Linked DNA regions of Homo sapiens. The protein of the gene in region 2 purifies or fractionates together with the protein of the main gene of each other region. This does not show direct contact. Each region holds a gene or a part of one and is shown on either strand. Other genes may lie near its edges.

The links.
Region 1: the proteins of ENTHD1 (region 2) and ZMYM6 purify together in Homo sapiens (affinity purification with mass spectrometry; one large-scale study listed by BioGRID and IntAct). This does not show direct contact.
Region 3: the proteins of ENTHD1 (region 2) and UACA purify together in Homo sapiens (affinity purification with mass spectrometry; one large-scale study listed by BioGRID and IntAct). This does not show direct contact.
Region 4: the proteins of ENTHD1 (region 2) and CEP250 purify together in Homo sapiens (affinity purification with mass spectrometry; one large-scale study listed by BioGRID and IntAct). This does not show direct contact.

The regions. Positions count from the first base shown.
Region 1 is NC_000001.11:35,014,509-35,019,533, forward strand, and holds part of ZMYM6 (zinc finger MYM-type protein 6), read right to left. Parts: coding exon 4,845-5,025; intron 655-4,844; coding exon 480-654; intron 381-479; coding exon 189-380; intron 1-188. UniProt on the Homo sapiens protein: Plays a role in the regulation of cell morphology and cytoskeletal organization.
Region 2 is NC_000022.11:39,886,451-39,891,475, forward strand, and holds part of ENTHD1 (ENTH domain-containing protein 1), read right to left. Parts: intron 1,454-5,025; 5' UTR 1,299-1,453; coding exon 950-1,298; intron 1-949.
Region 3 is NC_000015.10:70,753,122-70,758,146, forward strand, and holds part of UACA (uveal autoantigen with coiled-coil domains and ankyrin repeats), read right to left. Parts: intron 1-5,025. UniProt on the Homo sapiens protein: Regulates APAF1 expression and plays an important role in the regulation of stress-induced apoptosis. Promotes apoptosis by regulating three pathways, apoptosome up-regulation, LGALS3/galectin-3 down-regulation and NF-kappa-B inactivation.
Region 4 is NC_000020.11:35,457,510-35,462,534, forward strand, and holds part of CEP250 (centrosome-associated protein CEP250), read left to right. Parts: intron 1-794; 5' UTR 795-865; intron 866-2,473; 5' UTR 2,474-2,596; intron 2,597-4,755; 5' UTR 4,756-4,858; coding exon 4,859-5,025. UniProt on the Homo sapiens protein: Plays an important role in centrosome cohesion during interphase. Recruits CCDC102B to the proximal ends of centrioles. Maintains centrosome cohesion by forming intercentriolar linkages.

The DNA of each region.
Region 1 (5,025 bases), on a different chromosome or scaffold from region 2:
TTTTACCTATATCAACTTACCACCACAATCATCCCTCACACCATCAGAATCTATCCCATTTTCTGGAAGGGAAATCACATATCAGGATGGACTAATGGGAGGAGCTCACTCTCATTTTGTAGTTCATCCCTGTGCAGCCAAATCAGAAGGAGTGGGCCTAAGTACATGCAACAAATAGATATTCATACCTGCTTGTATGCCGTGACACTTGTTGAACTAAAAACCTTCTGGGATTGGCAAGGACCAGAGCTACTATAGCAATAGCTCCCACAGTTCTCACAACAGTTCATGGTGAGGTTGTTTGTAGAGTGAAATTTTGAAAAACAGGCATCACTACAAAGACCATGTACCACATTTTGATATTTAACTTCAAATCGAGTCTAGGAAATAAACACACACATACACACACAAAATAAGCAGAGCCAGTTAAAAAAAAATCTCTTTCAGCAGAATCCCAATAAAAGTAAAATGTAACTTACATCAGCATTCTTCTGACACATACTGCACTTAGTTGAAATGCTTTTGGTATATATGGTAACAACAGGTTTTTTCTTTAGCTCATAAGATGACAAGCATGATTGGCTGCAGAAATCTTTGCTAGGATAGGAATTCTCAAAGCGAGTTGTGATCACATCCTTAGGATTTAAAATGTCTCTAAAAATAAATAACAAAGGTAAAAATGAAATGTATTCTTCACAACTGTAACTTCCTCCTCTTTGTGAGGTGAAATAACACTTACTAAGGGCAGGTACTGTATGGTAGAAAAAGGATAAGGAATCTGCAAACCTGGGTTTGATGAGTTCTGCTATTTATCAGGTGAGTGACAATGAATGATGTAATTACTATCTCAATTTCTTCATGTATAAAATGGGGCTTATAATATCTAATTCATAAATTTGTCAAGAGTGAATTATATTTAAAATATAGCCAGCCAGGGCCAGGTGCGGTGGTTCATGCATGTAATCCCATCACTTTGGGAGGCCGAGGTGGGCGGATCATGAGGTCAGGAGTTCGAGACCAGCCTGGCCAACATGGTGAAACCTCGTCTCTACTAAAAATACAAAAACTAGATGGGCGTGGTGGTGGGCGCCTGTAATCCCAGCTACTCGGGAGGCTGAGGCAGGAGAATCACTTGAACCCGGGAGGTGGAGGTTGCAGTGAGCCGAGATTGTGCCACTGCACCCCAGCCTTGGCAACAGAGCTAGACTCCATCTCAAAAAAAAAAAAAAAAAAAAATATATATATATATATATGTGGCCAGCCAGATGCTGAAGACAAAAATAGGAAGGCTTCCAGCCCCAACCAAGTTTCATCTGCTATAGCCAATGGGACCAGTGTCCATCCCACAACTCCAGACCACAAGACACTGGTTCTCTCATTAGCCAGAGGCTGCCCAAAGTAGAACTGAAATGAGACAATAAATGAATTTTTTCTTTCTTTTTTTTTTTTTTTTTTGTGAGACGGAGTCTCGCTCTGCTGCCCAGGCTGGAGTGCAGTGTCACGATCTCGGCTCACTGCAATCTCCACCTCCTGGGTTCAAGCGATCCTCCTGTCTCAGCCTCCGGTTCGAGTAGCTGGGACACCAGCACGTGCCACCATGCCAGGCTAATTTTTGTATTTTTAGTACAGACGGGGTTTCGCCATATTGGCCACGCTGGTCTCAAATTCCTGACCTCGCGATCCGCCTGCGTCAGCCTCCCAAAGTGTTGGGATTACAGGCATAAGCCACCGTGTCCAGCCAAGACAATAAATGAATGTTTAAAAATTAAAAGTGCAAGATTTTGAGAAACAAATGAGCTAACAGAAGACAAAAAATAAGCATGATATATGACAAAAGGGCTGTTAAGGCTTTGTATCAGAGGACAGATGGAAACAAGAACGAGACAGGAAGAACAAAAATAATTGGGTGGTTCTGTGAGACTCCTAGAGCCAATTTGTAAGAGCTAATTATTGCAATAAGCACAAATAGCAATACCCTGGTAAAACAGAGGTTAAGTATTGCCATTCTTCTGACAAGTATAAAAACTAAAGGAAATAGTCACTAATTATAAACACTAGTGCAGGCCACAAAGTAAATAATAATGGCAATAATATATACTACAATAAGTGTGTTGAGTAATTACTATGTGCCAAGCATTATTCTCTTTACTCAAATTACCCAATTTAAATACCACAAAAATGATGGAGTGCAGTGGCTCACCCCCATAATCCTAGCACTTTGGAAGGCCAAGGCAGAAGGATTGCTTGAGCCCAGGGAGTTCAAGACTCCAGTGAGCCATGATCATGCCACTGCACTCCAGCCTGGGCAACAGAGCAAGACCCGATCTCTATAAAAAAAATTTTTTAATTAGCAGGGCATGCTGGCTCATGCCCATGGTCTCAGTTACTCAGGATGCTGAGGTGGGAGGATTGCTTGAGCCCGGGAGGTAGAGGCTGCAGTGAGCTGGGATCACGCCACTGCACTCCAGCCTGGGTGACAGAGTGAGACCGTGTCTCAAAAAAAAAAAAAAATCCCCAAACCACTATAAGGTTAAGTATTACTGTAACTGCCACTTTACAGATGAGGAAACTGAATGAGAGGTTAAATAGCTTGTCAAAGTCATATTGCTAGTAGGCAATAAAGCTGAAATACTAATCCAGGCAATCTGATTCTAGTCTATGGAATTAATTATTCCACTATCCTGCCTCCCATCCTGCACCTTTATTATACAGGTATATTCAATGGTAAACCATGAGAAAATAACAACAACAAAAATTATTTTAATTCTTTAAAACTCAACTTTAAAAATATGACAGCAAATCTTAGAAACCAAAAGAATATGCTTATACACAGATGAAGTATTAATTTTGAAAAGTGATTTTTCTACTGAAAACAGAGCAATAAAGAGTTTCACTTAATAAGGTGAATCTGCCAGTGGCATAATAAGTACAAAAATAGCAAGTAAAAATATGTAAATCAAAGAGAATGACTTTATAATGAAAATCTGTGCACATAAATTATAAGTGTACTCTGAACCTTACACATGCAAATGAGTGTTATATCGTAACATTTACCGTAGAAAAACCACACCTTCCAACAATAACATAGCTCAAAACATTTTTCTAATTTTTTTAAGATAAAACTTAAGATAAACCCTTAGACTATTTTTTAACTTTTAATTTTATAAATATCATGTTTTAACAGTATGACTTAATTTAATTAGCTAATATATTGGCCTGATTAAGGTATCAAGCAGCCTTTGAAAATTTGTAAAAATCAAATGCATGCTGAAAAGATAAGAATCTGTCTCCTAACCTTATGCTAAAAAGTCACTGACGGGGGTGACTACTTTTAAGAAAACAATAGGCATTTGGATGTATAAGTTGTGTTATGTTCTTTAAAATTATTTAATTTTATTTTGGTATTTGGTATGTTGAAACAATATCTAAAAATAGAAAACTAAGTTTACTCTTTCAGATTAGTTTCATGAGAATGACATAAAAGCATTAATTAGAATGGTATTTTGCAACAAACTAATTTAGAGTATATAAATATTTTAAAATTCCTCTCTCCTGGCCACATGTGATGGCTCACACCAATAGTCCCAGCACTTTAGGAGGCTGAGGCAGGCTAATTGCTTGAGCCCAGGAGTTTGAGACCAGCCTGGGCAACATAGCAAAACCATCTCTACAAAAAAATACAAAAATTAGTCGGGCATGGTGGTATGCGCCTGTGGTCCCAGCTATTTGAAAGGCTGAGGTGGGAGGATCATCTGAGCCCGGGGAGTTCAAGGCTGCAGTGAGCTGTGATCACTCTACCATGGGCAACAAAGAAAAAAAAAAATCCTCTCTCCTCTTTACTTGGAAATTTCCATATAGCAGGATCTACTTTTAAATAGTTTAAGTCAAGACACAAAGCAGATAAACACAGCCAAAGACAAAATAGGGGCCTACAAGTGATATGTTAAGTATACATAGTAATATGTATTATATACACATATATTTATTATATTTATTTATGTTAATTATAAATAATCGCACGATATAATTTTTATTATTAATAATAACAGGATTCCATTTTTTAAGTACTTGCTATGTGCTAGGCCATTTGCTAACACTGTCTCATTAAAGTCCTAGGAAGCAACTATTATTTACTGATGAGAAATGGAGGCTTAGAAAGTTAAACATCTAGCCCGAAGTCACAGAGATAAATGACAGAGCCACAATTTAAAAGCAAGCTCTTACTGTTTTTTGCCTGTAGTGACTATTAACAACACACTGTATTCCTCAAATTACACTACCACAGAAATAGGCAAAATATGCCAAATCCTTCAAATGTACTAAGTCAGGGAAAGATTTATGTGACTTTGTTGCTGTTTTTTCCTCTCTCTGCATCTAAGCATTATTGTAAAGCAACAATGACCCCACAAGGACATTAGAAATAAACACATTTTTGCGACCATGTAGAGTTTTTACTTTTTAAAGAATTAAATAGCTTTTGTATACTATTAAAAGAGTGATATTATTTTATGCTATACCCAATAGCTTTCAAGATAACTGTTAAATAAATTTAAATGGTGGGTGTCTACAATTACAGGATAGTCCTGCAATTCCCACATGTCATTTGTTATTTCTTTCCATAGTAAAATTTAAAGTGATAGAAAACTGGTTTAGGCAATATTCTAACACCAAGTCACTTATTTAATGTTGCAAAACTTTAAAATTGGTGAATTCTTCCATTAACTAAAAAGTTATTTCTACAGATACATGCTGAAGAGATTTAAAGTATCAACAGTATGTTTGAACTAAACAATATACACACTAAAAAAAAGGTAAAGTAAAAAGGGATGTTAAGAATTTTATACTTCGAGCAGTTTGTGCAGGTTTTCTTGGGAGGAGGTGGCAGGCAGGCAGGTGAAGAATGTCTGGTGATGCATCGTGTGGAGCAGAAGAGCTGAGTAGATCCTGTCTTATGATATGCAGTTTGGCCCTTATAAAGCATTTTTTTACAACCAGAACAAAAAACCTTAATAGCAACAGCTGGAA
Region 2 (5,025 bases):
CCACACTAATGCAAGATGTTATTAAGAGAAATTGTGTCTGAGTGGGGAAGGGTATGTGGGAACTCTGCGTAACTTTCTGCATAATTTTCCTGTAAACCTAAAACTGCCCTTAAAAAAAGGTCTATTTTTAAAATGCATGCTTCCCAGAGAGAATGCTCTGAATTTTATCCTCTTCTCATGATTCATAAGACTATTCATTTTGAACACAAATTATAATTCTACAGTAGCTAGAGAGGAAGCACTGAGCCTTTTGTCACTGTAGAATATCAGGCACTACTGAATCATCTCAGGATCCTATCCTTTCCCTACTGCACCTCCTCTTCCGCCCCCGAAAGAATTATTTTATGATCTAAATTTTTGTATTCATATAACTGCTTCCATCTAGATAGTCTTTGAAGATTCCAGCCTGTGGAAATATTTCCTTAATTTATGACTAAATTCCAGTTTAATTATAATTATAAATTACAGTGACATTATTACACCAAATTGCCATGCCTCCTATTTTATTCACTTTTTTCATTTTCTATGAGGTATCATTTTATCAGAAACCTAAGTGTGTTCACTTTTTTTTTCCTTTTGAAAAAAGTATTGTTCTCTAAGGCACTGAAGACTCAATACAGAGGATTAAATTGGAAACTATAACCGTCCCAGAGGAAAGACAGCTAGTACATTTAAGTACAACTCTTCCCCACCTCCTGGTATAAAATGATCCCCCAAAACTCCTAATCTTTATTGGCACATGCTATAAACTTTTTAAAAAAACTTTAGAGATCGGGGTCTCTCTATGTTGCCCAGGCCGGAGTACAGTGGCTATTCACAGGTGCAATCTTTCCTCACTACAGCATCAAATGCCTGGGCTCATGCAGTCCTCCCACCTCAGCCTCCCATGCACCAGGATTACCGGTGTACACCACCACACCCAGCTTATATAAACTTCTTTAACCATTACCTTGGTCTTTTCCAGCTTCATCTATGTGCTGAAAATCTTTTAGTGTTTGAAGGTTACAGAACCCCTCTCTGCAATGCTGAATAACTTTCTTTGATCCATTCTTGATGAGATAATCCATTAGGGTAAGGGATTTATACACGTGGCGCCAGTTCTTCCCATGGTCATTGAGTCTGTGCCACAGCATATTCATAATCTCTGAGAGAGAAATTGTGTTGAAAGTCAAGTCACTGATATCTAACATCAGAGAACTAGAGGGACCCCAAGGGTCGTTAGAAGTTGCTTCCCTGACTTTTATTTCAGCATCTGAGTAATTTTTCACAAAGTTTTTCACTTGTCTCCTGAACGCCATAAGTAATACAAGTTCCAAGGTGAGATGGAGGATGAAAGCAATGGAATAACAGTTTATGTCACGGGTTTATAAAACTCTTGACAGGTAATTGGTCCCCAGTTCTGCTGCTCCCAAATACAAATAATTAATCTCTATGTTGATAAAGTATCAATTTCCTGCAAGGAAAGCACAAAAAAATTTACATTAAACTTTTTTTTAAGTCTATAGAAGACCAAATCAATCTGAAAATCTAGGTTTTGTTTCTAAATCAGCCCCTCACTTACAGCAGCCAGAATTGAGGGTACCATATAACTGTTCCTAGGATAGGCATGGGAAAATCCCTCATGAGAAATTGGCCTATATTATTTAAAGAAATATAGGTTGTCTTTCTAGTCATAAAAGTTCCTGGAGAAAATATCATTCAACCTCTTTGGCCAGAAATATAATGGCTATAAAGCATTACATGGACAGCAGACAAGCAACATTTTAAAAAACAGAACTTGCACTCTGACATCTCTTTCTTTCTTTCTTTCTTTTTTTTTTTTTTTTTTTTTTCCAAAGACAGGGTATTGCCCTGCTTCCCAGGCTGAAGTACAGTGGTGCAATCATAGCTCACTGCAGCCTTGAACTCCTAGGTTCATGCAATTCTCCTGCCTCCGCCTCCCAAGCAGCTGGAACTATAGGTGTGCGCCACCATGCCTGGCTATTTTTTTTTTTGGAGATAGAGTCTCCCTCTGTTGCCCAGGCTGGAGTGCAGTGGTGCGATCTTGGCTCACTGCAACCTCTGCCACCCGGGTTCAAGCGATTATCCTGCCTCAGCCTCCTGAGTAGCTGGGATTACAGATGCACGCCACCACACCTGGCTAATTTTTGTATTTTTAGTAGAGACGGGGTTTCACCATGTTGGCGAGGCTGGTCTCAAACTCCTGACCTTGTGATCCTTCCACCTCAGCCTCCCAAAGTGCTGGGATTATAGCCGTGAGCCACCGCTTCCGGCCTGCCTGGCTAATTTTTAAATATTGTGTAGAGATGGGGGTCTCAATATGTTGCACAGGCTGTTCAAAAATTCCTGGCCTCAAGTGATCCTCCCACTTCAGCCTTCTGAAGTGCTAGGATTTCAGGCATCTCTTTATATTGTCACATATAAAAATATTATATTCTGAGAGTAATTAAAATGGGGGTAAAATTGAGTCTTAGAATCACCCACTGACCCTATGACTGTATTCTTTTTAGAACTACAAGTCCCGAGAATCAGATCTAAATATAGTCTGCTTTCTTGCTAAACCTAAAAGAAAGGAGGATCAACTATGAAGACAAACAGCTGTATATCAGTGGACTCCACAGCTAATTCATGGTACCCTAAAACCTCTATTTTAGTCCAGATAAGCCTGGTAAATTAGAGGGAAAGGTTAAATTACTTTATTTGTTCACCTTTGGAAAAAGAAGAATGAGTTTAGGATTAAACAGTGTCAACAGTAAGACTCAAATAATGCAAGGATTTCTCTAAATCCTGCAGTGATCAGCCTGTGTCTATCAGATCTCAAAACAAGGACACACAGAGAGGCCCATATACTAAAACTTAAAAGGGAAATGCAGCCCCCAAACTTTACATAATGCTTGTGAATGATCAATTCAGTTTATAGGAAACCATTCCCTTTCTCTTTTTCATTATTTTGTATTAAGGAGGGTCAGTCAGTTTGCAATTTCTCTAGTGATTCACCACTGCTGGCTGCCAAGACAGTGTACCAAATTGATTTCAAGCCCTGACGAACATCCAGACCCAACGAAACCTAGAAGATCTATAATCAGATTTTACTAGAGAAACTGCACACATACAAAAGAAAAAATGTTAAAATCCATAACAAATGTGTTCACTGCTTTTAGTTTTGCTTCCCTTTCTTGACCTTCTCAGGTAACTAGCTCAGCCTTGATTAATTTCTGTATGTGTATTAAAGGAAGACATAAATTTTTAGAAGCATCCCAAATAAACTATCACTTCTTTTTTTTAAAAAAATGAGATAACCTCTTTTTGGTAAAAATACAACACACTCTTAACTAAGCAAGACAGAAAATGTACCTGTATAAGTGGTTGGGCGTGGTGGCTCACACCTGTAATCCTAGCACTTTGGGAGGCTGCCGCGGGCAGATCACCTGAGCTCAGGAGTTCAACACCAGCCTGGACAACATGGTGAAACCCTATCTCTACTAAAAACACAAAAAATTAGCCAGGCTTGGTGGCACACACCTGTAATCCCAGCTACTTGGGAGACTGAGGCATAAGAATCACTGGAACCTGGGAGGCAGAGGTTGCACTGAGCCGAGATTAGGCCACTGCGCTATAGCCTGGGAGATAGAGTGAGACTCTGTCTCAAAAATAAATAAATAAATAAATAAATAAATAAATAAATAAATAAATAAATAAAAAAGAAAATGTATTAAATATCTGTTTAATTAAGATTTCTCAGAAAGACACTATCATTAACCCTAGGAAGAAAAAGAGAAGTTGTGTTTCTACAACTTTCTGATTTTCTCTTTTTCGTACTTCAAACACAGTCATTTTTATTTGGCACCTTCCTGCAGTGAAAAACTGATTTATAATATTTCAGCAAAGCTATTAAAATTGTCAAGCAGGAGGGTTTTTTTTTCTATTGTCCTTTTTTTCCTTCTACCAAACTCACTCAATGCAGAGATGCACTATGACATTGGCTTAGAGCAACAAATATCGATCTGTTTCTTCACGATTCTATTTTCTTTTAAAGCCCTGTTAGAATCATAACTTGCTGGAATTGAACAACAAATGTTAATTTTTTTTTCTTTTTTGGATAGCTATCTATCTATATTTTGGAAGAACAATCGTAATTTTTAGGTTTTTCTACATTCTCTAACCTATATTTTAAACTTTTAAAAACTGTTTTCTTAAATGAATTTTCTAACCCAGAAAAATATCAAAATAATAGCCTTCTAATCCAATAGAGTAGTTTAAAATGAATTTACATGACACCATATCAGAATTAAATACAACCCCAACCATTAGAAAAATCGCAAGGAAAAAGGTCTAGAGAAGTGAATTCTTATCACTTACTAATGTACAATGACTTGAACTTTACCTTGTGATATGAACGTAGAATATGTAAAACACCATTCTACTACTGCTGTCTTTTCAAATTGACAAGGAGCTCAATTAATTGGTGTTAGTTGTAAATTATATGTTGGTTTATTATGTGTTTTAGACACCTGACTACATGAAAATGCTGTTTACATACAGCATCAAATAACTGTGAGATTGTAACTACAGTGATGTGACAAAAATTGACATGAGACAAAATTAGTGCCCAAGAGGGTAAATTTCCACATTTGAATCTTGGTTGTCTGGCTACCCAACTCACTATAATATTTAGAAATAGAGGGAAGAAGTTAGGTATTTCATGTCACAAATCTGAGAGGTCTTCACCGACCTCACTAACTACTTAGGTCTCCCCAGAACCTGGTTAATTTCCTTCATTGCACTTGTAACAATCTGTACTTACCTATTTGTCATTTGCTCAGTGCCTTTCTTCACCACCAAACTGGAAGCTCCTTGGGGGCAGGGACCTTGACGGTCTTATTTACCACTGTAATCCTATCCCTAACAGCTAATTAGCAACAGTAGATACTCAAGAAACATGTGTTGTGCAAATAACACAATGATTGAATGATTCTGCCTTGGGATAAACCTGCACTGATTCTATAGCTTTATAATTATAATCAC
Region 3 (5,025 bases), on a different chromosome or scaffold from region 2:
ATAAGGACGTATAAAGCTCTTACAGATCAACATGAACAGGGCATCAGCAGAAAAAATGGTCAAAGAAAATGAACAATTCCTAAAACAAGAAATGAACGCAGCCAATAAGCACAGAAATATGTTCACCCTCCCTGGAAATCAAAAACATGGATTAAGCCAAACTATTTTTTTCTATCACATTTAAAAATGTTTTAAATAACAGAATCTATTATTGGAAGGATATCAGGAATGCAACAATTCCACATATCTCTGGAGGGAACACAGATTGGTTTTGGAATTTCCCATAAAATGCCTCCTCTCTCCCCTTCTCCAATTTTTTTGTATATATGGCTTAAGGTGTAAATCCCATAGCATTAAATTTGAAACATCAGTTCACAATGGTAAGGACATGGGTTCCAAAGCCAGGCTACCTAACTCTTCACTTATTAGCTATAGTGTCTTGGGCAGGTAAATTATTTAACTTGCATCTGAAATGATGGCAATAGTACCTACTTCTTAGGGTTGCGGTGAGGATTGAGTTACTAGCACTTAGAACAATGCCTGGGAAATACATGCTCAATAAATCTTGGCTATCAGCACATGGATTTCTCACAAGCAGTTTCTTTCTAAGTAACTCACTAGCATTTACTGAGTACTTCTAATTGGGACATTTGTATGTGCTCAAATAATTTCAAATTACTTATAATTTTTTTTGTTGCTGTTGAGACAGAGCCTCGCTCCATCGCCCAGGCTGGAGTGCAGTGGCGCGATCTCGGCTCAATGCAAATTCCGCCTCCCAGGTTCACGCCATTGTCCTGCCTCAGCCTCCCGAGTAGCTGAGACTACAGGTGCCCACCACCATGCCTGGCTAATTTTTGTATTTTTAGTGGAGACAGGGTTTCATCATGTTGCCCAGGCTGGTTTCGAACTCCTGACCTCAAGTGATCCGCCCACCTCGGCCTTCCAAAGTGTTGGGATTACAGGCGTGAGCCACTACGCCCAGCCTATATTTGGTTTTCTACAATGAACATGTATGACTTTTGTGGGACAGTCATTTATCCTAACTGGTTGAGACATTCACCTGCGCTCTCTCAAGGATACCTGGCCAGGTCCCATTCAATTACAGACAGTCCCCAACTTATGATGGTTAGACTTAGGATTTTTTGACTTTACAACAGTACAAAAGCTACATGCATTCAGCAGAAACTGTATGTACTTTGAGTACCCGTACAACTATTCTGTTTTTTCACTTTCAATAGAGTATTCGGTATTGAATTCATGAGATATTCAATACTTTCTTATAAAATAGGCTTTGTGTTAGATGATTTTGCCCAACTGGAGGCTAAGTGTTCTGAGCATGTTTAAAGAAGGTTAGGCTAAGCTATGATGTTGTGTAGGTTAGGTGTCTTAAATGCATTTCGACTTACAATATTTTCAACTTAAACTGGGTTTACCAAGACATAACCCCATAATAAGTCAAGGAGCATCTGTATAAAAATACAACTCATCGATCCTTTGCCAGTGCCTTTGGTCACTCAGCTACATCAGTTCATCTTCTGCATATCATCTTGGAGACTGTATCATTTGAAAATAAGTCAATGTCAACAATATTTAGGATTTCTGACAATAAAACAAAGCCAACAGACAAAACTGTTTGTGTGACTACAAACAATCCAATTTATTCTTGTGTTTTGGGGCTACATTTTTAAGCCTGGAAGAGACATTATCTTTTCTAATGATATAAAAGCTATATAAAGCTTTTAATTGTATTATGATTAAGGAAAATAAGGCAATGAGTATTATATCCTATTGTTCCATTTATAATTTCAGGCAGCACATTTCAACCATCCATTTTTAGGCAAATTCCCCACAGAAATCAATTTGACTTCCTTTGCATAAATAAGCACGTGCAGGTGGAAATTTCAATAATATGCTGTATCCTTTAGGTGGCAGGACAAACATTTGCAAAACTGTAACAGGACAGTAAAAGTTTCCATATGATAGTGATGAAACAATACATGTTATAACGTTCAAATCTATTATTCTTGGATCTAGTTTACCAAAGATACAAACATAAGTTAAACAGGGCTGATAAAATCAAAATTTTGCTGGCTATTAGCTAATTCTAGAGAGGAAGGGAGAAGCAGAAAGATGAACTTATAAACTCACTAATAGGATAATTTCTGAAGATGAAACTTTCATGACTAGTCAGTTCTCTCTGAACAGTGATCTAAACTTGTCAAGTAATTTAAATTTTAATTCAAGGTTTAAAAAAAAAAAAGAATGAGGCCGGGGGCAGTGGCTCACGCCTATAATCTCAACAATTAGGGAGGCCGAGGTGGGTGGATCGCCCGAGGTCAGGAGTACAAGACCAGCCTGGCAAACATGGTGAAACCCCATCTCTACTAAAAACACAAAACTTAGCCAGGCATGGTGACAGGAGCCTGTAGTACCAGCTACTCGGGAGGCTGAGGCAAGAGAATCTCTTGAACCCGAGAGGCAGAGGTTGCAGTGGGCCAAGATTGCGCCACTGCACTCCAGCCTGAGCGACAAGAGGGAGACTTATTCTCAAAAATAAAAAAAAAAAAGAATGAATGAAAACCTTCCTTTACCACAATCCCCAAGCTGCACGCCCTCTAACTCCCTATTTTCAATAGAATTCTTATTTGAAGATTTGTCTATGCCTCATCTGTGCCATCCTCTACCATAAAACCAGAATTAGTTTCCAAATCTGATGCTCCCTCAGCTGTATAATTTCACAGCTCCATACCACTGCATTTGCTCTTCTTTTGCTTGGAAAGCCACTGAAATTGTCTTTCTGGCCCAAGCTCACACTCTACCTTTCAACCTTTTTATGGGCTCACTCTACACTCTATGTGCCCCCACAGCAATTTATACCGACTTCTATAATAACTGTTAACATGCCATATTCATTTATTTTTTATATCTAGCTCTTAAAATTCTTGAAGGCTGTGACTAGCTCTTTCTAATTACAGTACAGAAATTTTAGGACATACGCTAAATACAACAGTATCACAAAAGTGAATAAGCATCATGAACCACCCAGCCGCAATTTTTTTTTTTTTGATGGAGTCTTGCTCTGTTGCCCAGGCTGGAGTGCAATGGCATGATCTCAGCTCACTGCAACCTCCGCCTCCCAGGTTCAAGCAATTCTCCTGCCTCAGCCTCCCTAGTAGCTGAGACTACAAATGACCATGCCCAGCTAATTTTTGTACTTTTAGTAGAGACAAGGTTTTACCATGTTGGCCAGGCTGGTCTCGAACTCCTGACCTCAAGCGATCTGCCCACCTCGGCCTCCCAAAGTGCTGAGATTACAGGCATGAGCCACTGTACCCAGCCCCAAATGCAGTTACTAACTCAAGACCAATCCTATTGCAACTATACCCCCAACTTACTATCCCCACCCACCCAAAGATTATTTTGAAGGAAATCCCAGACTCCAAAATATTTCTTTGAAAGATAAAGACTCAGCTGGGCGAGGTGGCTCATGCCTGTAATCCCAGCACGTTGGGAGGCCAAGGCAGGTGGATCACCTGAGGTCAGGAGTTCAACACCAGCCTGGCCAACATGGCAAAACCCTGTCTCTACCAAAAATACAAAAATTAGCCAGGCATGGTGGCGGGCAGCTGTAATCCCAACTACTCGGTAGGCTGAGCCAGGAGAATCACTTGAACCCGGGAGGCGGAGGTTGCAGTGAGCAGAGATCACACCACTGCACTCCAGCTGGGGCAACAGAGTGAGACTTCATCTCCAAAAAATAAAATGAAGGATAAAGACTCTTTATAAACACAGCCACATTACTACCACTGTCACATTTAAATGTTTCAAATAATTCGATATCATCAAGTATCCAGCTGATGATTATATTTCCTCGATTGTTTCATAAACTTTTACTTTTTACAAGTAGTTAATCAGGATCTAAATAAAGTCCATCACGGCAATTGGCTAGTATGCATTTTAATCTCTTAAATCTCTTGTAATCCATAGGTTTCTCCTCTTTTTCCTTTTCTTACAATTTATAATTTTTAAGAAACCATTTCATTTTTCCATAGATTTCCACAATCAGAATTTTGCTGATTGCATCCCTATCTTCCTTTGTTCCCTGTATGACAATAATCAAAATTATTGTATGACAATAAACAAAATCATGGTTATAGCTAAAGGGTGATTATTTTGGCAAGACTATTAATAGGTGGTAATAAGTATTTCCACCACAAGATATATTATGCCAGCTTGTCTTTCTTTTTGAGACATTAGTAGCCTCTGACAATCATGTCTATAGACTCTAGATTCATTAATTCATTAGGAGCTGTAAAGTTATGATATACTAACTCTATCACCCCTTCTTCATATATTAGCTGGGACAGAATACATGATATACTAATTACATCATCCCTTCTTCATCTATTAGTGGCAGTAAAGTATAACTAAAACAGACACTTCCTCTTATCAGCTATTTGGCTACCTTGAGATACAGTTCTCACAGGAAATGCACAATAAATGTTTTATTATTTCCCTTTATTTTCCTGATCTTGAAAGAATGCATCACTTTCCTAGCATCCTCCAAAAGTCAAGAGTTGTTTTTATTCTTTTGGTCATCATTACAAACTCATGGATTTAAGGATTTCAGTGCACTACAGTTGCTATTCTTACTGATGATCAAACTGTCCCATCTTTGGGCAACTGAGAGCCTCTTGGAGTTGGCTCCAGAGTCCTAATCTTTGACAGCCTCTTTACACTCCAGCATGACAAGGGCACTCCAAGTTCATCCTCCACACTTTCTGCTTTCAACTTGGAATTATCCATTTCTTCGAAGAGGACCTAATTAATCCATTATTGAGCCTATGTGTTCCATAAATGTTTTCCAAACTAAATAAGGCAACTGCTGAGCAAAGTCTACTTCCTGAACTAATCATTTTTAATTTGAACAATGCATATGATGTACCATAAGTATATATAATCATTACACCATCCTTATTAAAAAACTAATTAAAATCCTTTACTCATCACCTAAAGTTCCTGGAC
Region 4 (5,025 bases), on a different chromosome or scaffold from region 2:
AATGCCACACAGCCAGCAATTTTTTTTTTTTTAATAGAGATGGGAATCTCCCTGTGTTGCCCAGGCTGGTCTTGAACTCCTGGCCTCAAGAGATCCTCCCACCTTGGTGAAACTCTGTCTCTACTAAAAATACAAAAAAATTAGCTGGTCGTGGTGGCACATGCTTGTAATCCCAGCTACTCAGGAGGCTGAGACATGAGAATTGCCTGAACCGGGGAGGCAGAGGTTGCAGTGAGCTGAGATCATGCCAGTGCACTACAGCCTGGGTAACAGAGCCAGATCCTGTCTCAAAAACAAAACAAAACACTGGATGAGATTACCTTGGAAATTAATGGAGATGGAGAAGAGGTCTGAAGCCTTGAGGTTTCCAAACTTTAGATACTGGGGAGATGAGAAAAGGCAGCAAAGGAGACTGAGTGGGAGAGGCCAGAGGTTGGAAGAGAGCAACAGAGAGGCCCCACATGAGATTTAAATAAGGAGCTGCATGCTAATTTGTTTTTTTCAGGAGTAAGAAACAAATTATGTCTGTACACAAATGTCTATACTGTAGTTTCTTTCTCAGTAAATAAAATGTTTGTGTCCTCAAGTATTTTTCTGTTTTTGCTTTAAGTGACAAATTCTATTTAATACCATTCTGCATCTTAGTCCTTGTAGCATTTATGCCTCTATTCCAAGTTTAGGTGGTAGTGTTGCTTCTCTTTTAAACTTTATTTAAATACTCCTTTTGTAGTATTTTGGATGAGAGAGGATCAAATACATAATTTATCTCACTCTTCTGTCACTTTCCACTCCAGGTTCACAGGTGGCTGTTGGTCTTTAGTAAGGGTGCTGTCTTCCCTGTCTGATCCTTAGCAAAAGTAGGAAGGTAGGTCTTGTTCATTTCTGTACCACTGTGGCAGACTCCTGATACTGAGTTGAAATTCATGAGTGTTTATGGGATAAATTAATGTACAAAAGAAATGAATCTTTCCCTTTTTCCTGCAGTAATGATAACATTGGCTCAGTGGTTTACAGCTTAGAAGTACACTGACACTCATTATCTTATTTAGATGTAATCCAATTTGTTAGTTTGCCAGCTACTGCTCTTTTCCCTTTCTCAGGCACATTGAAATTTACTTTCCCTTTGGGGGCTCTGCTAGTTTATTCCTAGCAGATCTGATCTGGCAGTGTGTTTGTAAAAGGATGCTGAACTGTGTCTTGAGGAAGCTCAGAATGAAATCTGAATTTCAGAAAGATTCCTGAGATAATTTTTCTCTGTCTCTTCTCTTTTATTCTTGTTTTAATAAATTTTAGTTTTATGAGGATTGTTTTGGTTTTAAAAAACTTTAAATCATTTTTTAAAACTATTTTTTACAACAATTTTAGGGTTACAGAAAAATTGCATAGTACAGAGAGTTCCTGTATACCTTGCACCCAGTCTCCCCTTTTAGTATGGTATATTTGCTATAATGCAAATCTTTTTTTTTTTTTTTTTTTTTTTTTTTTGAGATGGAGCCTTGCTCTTGTCGCCCAGGCTGGACAGTGTTGGCCAGGCTGGTCTCGAACTCCTGACCTCAAGTGATCCGCCTGCCTCAGCCTCCCAAAGTGCTGGGATTACAGGTGTGAGCCACTGTGCCTGGCCATGCAAATCATTTTTTGAGATAAGTGGGGCATATAAAAATATAAACAAAATGAAGTTGCTTTATCTCTACAAGCCTCAGTTTCCTTATCTGCAAGATGAGGGGGGTGGACTAAATTTCTAAATAGCTTTAAAATTTTTTAATTATCTGCTAAAGTAAAATAATTATATAATTGTAATATAATTTTCTTTATTTGCTTAAGTATTACTAATACCACCTTGCCAAATCATGTTTGCAAGTTACTGACAGCCATATCCTAAAAGAAAACTTAATGAGAATTCATGGAACTATGTGTGGCAGGACTGCTTATTAGAGATATTAGGTTGAATGATGTGAAATTGCCATTTTTGTAGATAAAAAGTAATGAGTGAGGCTGGGCTTGGTGGCTCACACCTATAATGCCATTGCTTTGGGAGGCTTGGACCAGGGGGTGGCTGTCTGAAACCAGGAGTTCGAGACAAGCTTAGGCAACATGGCAAAACCTTGTCTCTACCAAAGAAAAAAAAAAAAAGCCTCGGTGGCACACATCTTCAGCTCCTCTGAAGGGTGAGGCTGGAGGATCCCTTCAGCCCAGGAATTTGAGGCTGCGGTGAGCTATGATTGCACCACTGTACTCCAGCCTGGGTGACAGAGCTAGATCCTTTCTCTAAAAATAATAATAATAATAGGATAATATTAGCAATTTCATATGGTTCAACCTAATGTTTTGGGATAGGGATTCAACAAAGTGTGAGGGGGCCTTTGAGACCTCATAAACTCCCACTGCATGCAAAAGCCCGGCTCAGCCCTCACCATACTAGGAGAGAAAAGGCTCCTCAGTTCCCTTGGAGTAACTTGGATCTACATTATTGTAGGTAGAGTTGTTGGCAGAAATCCTGGGATAAGAGAATAGTTTCCTGGAAGATCTGTGCCTCCAACCAGCAGAGAGGGATTGAGCTTCATTGAACTCAACAGAGCCAACATTTCATAGCACCATGGTGAGTTGGTCACACAGCCTTGGCAAAAAGGCTGAAAAGGAGGGTGTAATAGTATGGGGAAAGGTTGTATTCCCCTGGTTCGTAGGCTAGGAAGAGGCCTGGAGTACTGGTGCCACCAAACCTTTATTGGTGCCATTCTATTCTCCCTACTTTATGCACTTTCCTTACTGCCTAGTACAGGCTCTGCAAACTCAAGTATCTTCGGTTGTTCAGGAGGTAATGTAAATTAGTAAGCCGAGTTTTCCTCTTTAATGCTACTATAACAGAAACAATAGCACAGTTGCAATGATAAATGACAACTGAAATATGCTATCATTGTGAGGGAGAGAATCGGTGTGTGCATAGGGGAGGCCATGATGAACTGGAGAGCACATGCCCTGTCTAAAGGGGGCAGGCACTATACAACTGTGCAGAGCACACGCCCTGTCTAAAGGAGACAGGCGCTGTTCAACTGCACGGAGCGCGTGCCCTGTCTAAACGGGCAGGCACTATTCAACTGTGCAGCTGGTTGTTGCCTTATTGAAATATGGGTCAAGCATCACTGGGTATTCTGATTTTCCAAAGGAGCCAGAAATATGGATTTTATGTACATTCTCCCAATGATAAATGTTGGCACCTAATTTGAATTCTTAAAAACTATTATGTGGGCCACACAATGGCTGAAAAGAGCTAGCAGGGCACTGATTTGTCATCTCTGGCTTATGGCTTAGCTCTGCCAGGAGTGAGGCTCACATGCATTTCTTCACTGGACATTGTTGACAAGTTACAATTAAAATGAATTAGACAGCTCCTGCCTTTGAGGTACTCATGGATTAGCAGAGAAAATAGACAAGTAATGATGATAAGATGTAGAGTAGACATCAGAACATATGTATTCTCTCTGTGTATATAGCTATAAAAGTGACTAACTCTTCCTGGGTTCATCTGGGAGGACATGATAGGACGTGGCATTTGAGCCAGGATGTGGGAAATCAATAGTTTGGTGCATTAAAGGGATTTGGGGCCCTTGAAATTTCTACTGTATGTGCAAATGTTAGGTTTGCATTCGCTGTATATACCATTTTGTTGATAGGTAGTTGAAAATACGGATATTCCTTAGCCCTGCTGGTGAGAGTCTTAGGGTTAATAAAATGAGAGAACTCTTCCTCTGGCCCAGGTTATGGGATAATTGTGTGTTTTAGAGGCCTAAGTAACTCAGAGGTCATGATACCCTCATTTCTGGATGAGGGAAGTAGCACATCTGAGGTCACAGAGCCCATTGGAGGCAGAGCTTGGACTAACACCCAGAACTCTTTACCACCATGCCTTCCCCTGTCCTGGGTATCTCTGATGAAGGTCACCGTTAGGCTGGCCGCCTCTGCCTGTGGTGGCCCATTGCCCTGTTTTGGCCCAGCTCCTGGTGGGTGAGGGGGTTTGGCCATCCTGCTGCCACTGGTTCCTTCTCTCTTTTGGATCCTTTGCCTGAAATGCCTGCTACCCCTTTTCTTTGTCAGATAGACTACTTGTGTTCAAATCTCTCTCAACCATATGCCAGCTGTGTGGCCTGGCACAAGTTTTTTAACCTTTCTAAGCCCCAGTTTCCTCATCTATATATAAAGAGTTATAATAGTACGTTTGGTGAAGTGTAATGAGAAGGCATTGGAAGGTTTCAAGATTTTTGTAAAAACAAAATGACGTAATGCATGTAAAGCACTTAAAGCAACAGCCCTCCAGAAGCACTCAGCAAGTGTTAACAATGATGATGATGATTCACACAGTTCACAGGCTCCCAGGCTGGGTTCTCTTCCTTTGTTTTCTCATATTATCTTATTATTTCACATGCTACATTGTATGTATTGTAATAGTTTGTGTCTATTTCCCCTGCTAGACTAAGAACACCTTCAGCGATTCATTCAACAAATGTTTCTGAACCACTGTGCCAGGAACTAAGGATGCAGTGATAAACCAGGAGCTCTTGGTTTAGTGCAGAGTTCCAAAAGTCATGCCAGGAGACACTAGTCCTGTGAGCTTGTCTCATGGTCAGTTAAATTTGGGGAATGATGCTCATCATAGCGCCCTTCAGAGATGAGGGTCCCTTTTAGTATTTTAAAGGTTCTGAGGAGTCTTGTGTGTAGTAAAAGAACAGTCCTTTCCATTTGACTATGTGCTTTGGTCCCCAGTTCAAGAGGAGGTTGAAGTGGCATGGCAATGGTTAGAGACCCTGCTGGGCGTGAACACCCTCTGGCTACCTAGGGACCTGTGGGCCTACCACCTGGTGCCCTCATGGAGACAAGAAGCCCTGGGTTGAACAACATGAAGCCCCAGTCACTGCAGCTGGTACTGGAAGAGCAGGTGCTGGCACTACAGCAGCAGATGGCAGAGAATCAGGCAGCCTCCTGGCGGAAGCTGAAGAACTCCCAGGAGGCCCAGCAGAGACAAGCAACCCTTGT